Homo sapiens: one gene and its partner. The protein of the gene in region 1 purifies or fractionates together with the protein of each later gene. This does not show direct contact. Each region holds a gene or a part of one and is shown in the gene's direction. Other genes may lie near its edges. The genes, in order: NAIP and XAF1.

Evidence for each region.
Region 2: the proteins of NAIP (region 1) and XAF1 purify together in Homo sapiens (affinity purification with western blotting, with the first as the bait; one study listed by BioGRID). This does not show direct contact.

The regions. Positions count from the first base shown.
Region 1 is NC_000005.10:71,011,745-71,015,565, reverse strand, and holds part of NAIP (baculoviral IAP repeat-containing protein 1), read left to right. Parts: intron 1-2,647; 5' UTR 2,648-2,650; coding exon 2,651-3,218; intron 3,219-3,821. UniProt on the Homo sapiens protein: Anti-apoptotic protein which acts by inhibiting the activities of CASP3, CASP7 and CASP9. Can inhibit the autocleavage of pro-CASP9 and cleavage of pro-CASP3 by CASP9.
Region 2 is NC_000017.11:6,762,519-6,766,339, forward strand, and holds part of XAF1 (XIAP-associated factor 1), read left to right. Parts: intron 1-3,821. UniProt on the Homo sapiens protein: Seems to function as a negative regulator of members of the IAP (inhibitor of apoptosis protein) family. Inhibits anti-caspase activity of BIRC4. Induces cleavage and inactivation of BIRC4 independent of caspase activation.

The DNA.
Region 1 (3,821 bases):
TGGTCTCAAACTCCTGACCTCAGGTGATCCACCCACCTCGGCCTCCTAAAGTGCTGAGATTACAGGCATGAGCCACTGCTCCCGATGGATTATATTTCAATATAATTCAATTATGCAATATAATTGCATAATTGTTATCATCTCTCCCTGATATATTATCGGAATGGATGTGACATCTGAATGGGGATGCTGTTGAGGAAAGAGATTTCATGAAATGTACAGTGAGTGGCATAATTGTGGCTCACTGTAACCTTGAATTCTTGGGCTCAAGTGATCCTTCTGCCTCTGCTCCCCGAGTAGCTGGGACTACAGGCATGTGCCAACACATCTGGCTAATTTTTAAAATTTTTTGTAGAGACAAGGATCTCACTAAGTTGCCTAAACTGGCCTCAAACTCCTAGCCACAAACAATCCTCCCACCTTGGCCTCCCAAAATGCTGGGATTACAGGTGTGAGCCTCCACACTTGGCCACTTACTTTCTTTTTGATTCCTATTTCAGGAGAAAATCATAATCAATTTGCATTTGTGTGGAAAGGCCACCAATGCACATTTAAGCTGCTCCCACAGGACATTTAAATTATCTTGCTTATTGCTACAACCTAATGAGGAACAACTTAGATTTGATTGCACTGGAAAATACTATATCTTTTTTTTGTTTGTTTGAGATGGAGTCTCACTCTGTCACCCAGGCTGGAGTGCAATGGCGAGATCTTGGCTCACTGCAACCTCTGCCTCCCAGGTTCAACTGATTCTCCCGCCTCAGCCTCCTGAGTAGCTGGGATTACAGGCACCCACCATCATGCCCGGCTAATTTTTTTTATTTTTGTAGAGATGGGGTTTCACCATGTGGGCCAGGCTGGTCTTGAACTCCTGACCTCAGGTGATCTGCCCGCCTCAGCCTCCCAAAGTGCTGGGATTACAGGCATGAGCCACTGCGCCCAGCTAATACTATGTCTTATTATATTGATGATAATAATGTTAATCTCTCAATCCAAATATCCAGCTAAGACTGAATTGGAAGTGCTTGTTAATCATATAACCACCAGGGAGGGATGATTAACTGGCTAAAATGCAAGGCTTAGAATAAATGGTAAAATTCTTAGAAATTACTTGGGCTAGGCTGGGTGTGGTGGCTCACGTCTGTAATCCCGGTGTGGGAGCTGAGATTGCGCCACTGCACTTCAGCCTGGGCGACAAGGACAAGAGTGGGAAGCCAAGGCAGGCGGATCACTTGAGGTCAGGAGTTGGAGACCAAGCTGGCCAACATGGCAAAACCTTGTGTCTACTAAAAATACAGAAATTAGCCGCAATTGGTGGCACGTGCCTGTAATCCCAGCTACTCAGGAGGCTGAGGCAGGAGAATTGCTTGAACCCAGGAGGCGGAGGTTGCAGTGAGCCGAGGCCACGCCACTGCACTCCAGCCTGGGTGACAGAGTGAGACTGTCTAAAAAAAAAAAAAAAGGAGGAATTACTTGGGCTAGAGCCACTAGAAACATTCCCAAACAACCAAAATTAAGTTGCTAGCTACAAGACAGAGGAAAAAGGCACGAAAATTAGTTCAATTTCTTGGTTCCTGGAGAAATCACATACCATGTTTGGGAATTTTATCAACCCTTATTCTCGAAGTTAAGAGGGAATGGGGAGCTAATTTACATGGGGCTTTGAAAAATGAACAAATGGGAGACTTTTTGGGAACTTCGAAGAGATTACTTTGGGGCCATAGCACCTCAGTGTTCAAATGATGTTAGCAATGTCAGCAACCGACTCACGCTGATGGAGCTTCTTACCAAAGCCCGTGACTGCCCCTCAGGGATGGTCATGGGGATTTGACACTAGAAAGTTACCCGAGGCTTCTGGCAGGTATATGTCCTTTGAAAAACAGTCATTGGCCTGTTACTGAGCTTCTTTTTTTTTTTTTTTTTTTTAAGACGGAGTCTTGCTCTGTCACCCAGGCTGGAGTACCGTGGCGCGATCTCGGCTCGCTGCAAGCTCCACCTCCTGGGTTCACGCCATTCTCCTGCCTCAGCCTCCCGAGTAGCTGGGACTACAGGCGCCCGCCACCACGCCCGGCTAATTTTTTTTGTAGTTTTAGTAGAGATGGGGTTTCACCTTGTTAGCCAGGATGTTCTCCATCTCCTGACCTCGTGATCCACCTGCCTCGGCCTCCCAAAGTGCTGGGATTACAGGCGTGAGCCACCGCGCCCGGCCAGAGCACCGAGACTTAAAACATGAACACAAAATAATGATTTTTTAAAACTGAGTAATTCGATCAAATTGTTGCTGCCAGGCTATACAATTTTGTCTATGTTTTTCTTTAATATAAATGTTCAGTATATGCTCATGTTACCACATTGTGTCCATAACTGATATCTGGAAAGCTTCATGAATGGAGGCAGATGGGTGTCTGTCTTGTTGGTTGCTAGATCCCCAATGTCTAGCACTGTACCTGATATATAGTAGGTGCTTAGTAAATATTTGTTGATTAAGTAGATGAATACTGATGTTTCATAATTTTCCAACAATTTATCTTTTGTGTTGAAATTCCAGGCATTCCTTTAATTCCTGGTTTCTTCGGAAACAGTGGGAAATGCTCTTCTAAGAAAAATCTTACTATAAGGGATCAACCTGCTTTATTTTCCTTTTCAGAAAATGGCCACCCAGCAGAAAGCCTCTGACGAGAGGATCTCCCAGTTTGATCACAATTTGCTGCCAGAGCTGTCTGCTCTTCTGGGCCTAGATGCAGTTCAGTTGGCAAAGGAACTAGAAGAAGAGGAGCAGAAGGAGCGAGCAAAAATGCAGAAAGGCTACAACTCTCAAATGCGCAGTGAAGCAAAAAGGTTAAAGACTTTTGTGACTTATGAGCCGTACAGCTCATGGATACCACAGGAGATGGCGGCCGCTGGGTTTTACTTCACTGGGGTAAAATCTGGGATTCAGTGCTTCTGCTGTAGCCTAATCCTCTTTGGTGCCGGCCTCACGAGACTCCCCATAGAAGACCACAAGAGGTTTCATCCAGATTGTGGGTTCCTTTTGAACAAGGATGTTGGTAACATTGCCAAGTACGACATAAGGGTGAAGAATCTGAAGAGCAGGCTGAGAGGAGGTAAAATGAGGTACCAAGAAGAGGAGGCTAGACTTGCGTCCTTCAGGAACTGGCCATTTTATGTCCAAGGGATATCCCCTTGTGTGCTCTCAGAGGCTGGCTTTGTCTTTACAGGTACCTTGAAATTATTCTCTGAAGTGTTTCTCTGGCGTTTTAAGTTTAGGTTTTATTTTTCAATTGCTTTTGCAATATTTTGCTAAACTTTCTTCACTGGTTAAATGTGTTATATTAGGTATAAGGTCTAGTTTATTAAAATTCAACATCAATATTTTTATTTTTGCTTCATTTTCTATTTAGTACAGCCTGTGTTAATTTGTCAAATATATATAAAATAAGAAAGTTACGTCTCCTTAAACTTGGACCTTAGAAAATACTGGCTGTATTCTTAAGGTCCTGAAAAGATTAAATAACTCATGCGGTCATCCTGATCCCAGTCTCCTCACCCACCCTCCTTCTACTGCTCTTACATGATCTTTCTTTGATTCTTCTCATTGCTGCAGTATTGGAGGGTTTTGTTTGTTTGTCCTAGCCCCGCCATAGGGGTTATGATATATAAATCAGAGTTCTAACAATAACAACGATCATTTACTGAGTACTGTACCTACTTTATGCTAGGCATAGAGTGAGTACTAATTCTTATCCAATGAATTTACCCCTTTCTCTCCCATTTCACAGCTGAGTTCATGGAGGCTCAGAGACTTTAAGAAACATGCCTAT
Region 2 (3,821 bases), on another chromosome or scaffold:
CCTGGACATTGCAATTTGGTCCTCAGTAGGGCCTGTCTTACTGTTTTCGGTCCCATGTGGGAGTCTTCTCTATTAGACTGTGAGCTTCCTGCAAAACTGCATGACTTTTTCCATTTTCCTGACATCAGAGCTTGGTGCAAAAAGAGGACTCTGTAGAGGCGCAGTTACGTGATTGACTGACTGACTGATTTTGCCTGGGAACACTCACAGGTTCTTCCCTCCATAGCCCCTAAGCGCCGTTTAGTGCATTGCTGTGCCAAGTTGCTCCCTTCTTTTGCACAGAATGGAGCATTTCCCCTTTGGGAAACTTACCAAGGCTTCTCTCCAAAGAACTCTTCTCCTTCTCCTTGGGCAGAAAGTTGTTTACCTTTCTTAACACTTCAGTGCTTAAAACTACAGAATATCAAAACTAAAGAAACCATAGAGACGATCCAGCTTTTCGCTCTTTTCTTTTTCTTTTTACTATTGTGGTAAACCACGTATAATGTAAAATTTGCCATCACTATAGAGACATTTGGTACATTCACAATGTTGTGCAATCTGGTTCTAGAATATTTTCATCATTCCAAAAAGAAATCCTATACCCATTAGCAGGTACTGTACATTCCCTCATCTTCCCAGTTCCTGGCAACCACTAATCTGCTTTCTATCTCTATGGATTTGTCTATTCTGGACACTTCACATCAGTAGACTCATATAATATGTGGTCTTATGTAACCATCTTCTTTCACTTACCGTAACATTTTCAAGGTTTGCCCGTGTTGTAGTTGTGGCATGTGTCAGCATTTCATTCCTTTTAATGGCCTTTTCTTTTCTTTTATTTTTTTGAGACAGGGTCTCACTCTGTTGCCCAGGCTGGAGTGCAGTGGCGTGATCTCGGCTCACTGCAACCTCTGCCTCCCGGGTTCAAGCGATTCTCCTGCCTCAGCCTCCGGAGTAGCTGGGGCTACAGGTGCCTGCCACCACGCCCGGCTAATTTTTGTATTTTTTTTTAGTAGAGACGGGGTTTTACCATGTTGGCCAGGCCAGTCTCAAACTCCTGACCGCAGGTTATCCGCCTTCCTCGGCCTCCCAAAGTTAATGGCCTTTTTACGGTCATCCCACATTTTGTTTCTCTACTTGTTGGTAAACATTCGGATTGTTTCCACCTTTCAGCTCTTTGCTTTTTGAAGTGCAGTCTGTGGACCAGCTGCATGAGCATCACCTGGAATCCTGTTAGAAATGCAGAATCTCAGGCCCTCCCCCTAGAAATGCTAAATCAGAATATGCAGGGTCACATGATTTCCCAGGCATTTCAAGTCTGAGATGCGCTGCCCCAGCCACGGGATTCTCAGCCTTGGCTGTACGTGGAAATCACCTACTGACTTGTTTTCCTTAGTACTGATGTTTATTCGATCCTATAAGTGGTCCATGTGTTCTGTTTGAATGAGAAAATACTTGGTGAGCACCAAAACAAGAGTAAAGCTGACTACTTCCCTTCAAATGTCCAGCCTGGCAACCAGGGCACCTACACACTTATTTGAAGGCTACAGGGAAGTGGGGAGCTCCAATACACATGGAACTGGATTTGTGCTCAGAAACTCTGAATTTTAGTTCTGCTGTGCCCCTTACTGGCTGTGTAACCTCTCTGAGCTTCTTTCTTCTTTTGAGGAAAATGGGGATAATGGTTTATCTCCTTGTTCAGGAAAAGAAGACATCCACAACCAGCCAACACCAGATCTATCTCCTTGGCAGCATCCACACTCACTTACTTTGCCTTCCCACCTCTTAACCATAGAGGAGCTTCCTATGTGCCTCTCTAAAGCCTATCCCCTCCTACTGGTATAATATACCCTCTCTTTTTGCCTACACAAGGTCACACAAGTTTTTTGCTACACTGCTCCAGCAATTCTCCCCTCTCTGTCCTGCAACAGAGAGAGGTTAAATGAGCTGTACACGCAGGTAACAACAAAGTCTCACATCTCTAGGTTGTCCTAACATTTCTTACAATAACTTTTTAAAGGGGTACCACTATTGAATATTTATATATCAATGGCCTTGCACGAAAAGAATTTTTTTTTAATTTTGAAAATTAAGGATTGAAATCATGTATACTAGGTGGTTTTGTGGTTTTCAGTCTTTAACTTTTTATTAATATGACCCAAAGCCAGAAAAACATGAAATACTTCTGATCCCATTTCCTATAAGCTACCATCTTGTTTCTTTGTTCCCCTCCGTAGAAAAACATTTGAGCTAGTTGTCTATAAGTAACTGCCTCCATCTTTTCTTCTCTCATTCTTATTCCCACTCCAGTCTGGCTCTCCATTTTAACCAAATCTGCTCTTGTCAAAATCAATGACCTCTGCATTGCTAAATCCAATGCTCAGTTCTCAGTTCTCAATTTATGGGAAGCATTTACTGCTCATCACTCCCTCTTCCTCAGTGGACTTTCTCGGCTTCCAGGGTACCACACTTTCCTGGTTTTCAAGGACATTGGTGGTCTCTCATTCTCTACCTCCCCAGCCTCTTAATTTTGGGGGGCCCCAGGGCTTAGTCTCTGGTCTCTTCTCTACCTATATTCACTGCCTTCATTATTTCATCCTACCTCCTGATTTTTAAAAATGCCATATGTAAGGCCGGGTATGGTGGCTCATGCCTGTAATCCCAGCACTTTGGGAGGCCGAGGTGGGAGGATCACAAGGTCAGGAGATCGAGACCAACCTGGCTAACACAGTGAACTCTCGTCTCTACTAAAAATACAAAAACTTAGCCGGGTGTGGTGGTGGGTGACTATAGTCCCAGCTACTCGGGAGGCTGAGGCAGGAGAATGGCGTGAACCCAGGAGGCGGAGCTTGCAGTGAGCCGAGATCACGCCACTACACTGCAGCCTGGGCGACAGAGCGAGACTCCATCTCAAAAAATAGATAAATAAATAAAAATTTAAAAATTTTTTAAAAAGCCATATGTAGTCAGACACTTCCAAATTTATATCTCAGTCTGGGTTTTTCTCCCCAAACTCTAGATTTGTATATTACTATTTACTGCATCTTCACTTGAATGCTTGATAGACATCTTAAATGTAACACATCTGAAATGGAATCCTCTCTGCCACAGCTTGGCCCATCTCAGTTGATGGCAACTCTATCTTTCCAGTTGTTCAGGCCAAAATCTCAGGTTCACTCTCGACTTCTCTTTCCCTCCGCATTGCTACCCTGGTATGAACCATCATCTTCTCTAGCCCAGATGCTGCAGCAGTCTCCTAAACGGTCTTCCTACTTCTCACCTTGCCCCCTACAGTCTATTCTCATCACAGAGGTCAACGTGATCCCTTAAAAATACAAGTCAGATTGTTTGGCTCCTCTGTTCAGATCTCTGTACTGATTCTTGCCCCATTTTATGCAAACTCAAAACTACAGTGGCTTTAGAGATCTATGTCATCTTTGCCTCCCTTCTTATCTCATCACCTCTTTGATCTCATGTACTACTCCTGTTCAGCTCACTGGCCTCCTGATTGTTTCTTGAGCATACCATGCCTTAGGGCCTTTTCACTGGCTACTGCCTCTGGCTGGAAGCTACCTCCTCACCTTCCCCACCCTACTCCAGGAGCTAACTCTCTCACTTCTCTCAAGTCTTTGCCCAGATGGCACCTTCTCAAGGAGATGTACCACAACAACCTATTTAAAATTGCAACTCCCTCTCCATCACATATTTACCAACCCCTTACCTTCTTCTATTATTTTTTCCATAGCATTTGCCAACTTCTAACATATTATCTAATTTACTTACTTATTATGGCCCTTGTTAATTGTCTCCCACGACCTCAGAAAAACTATAAGCCCCAC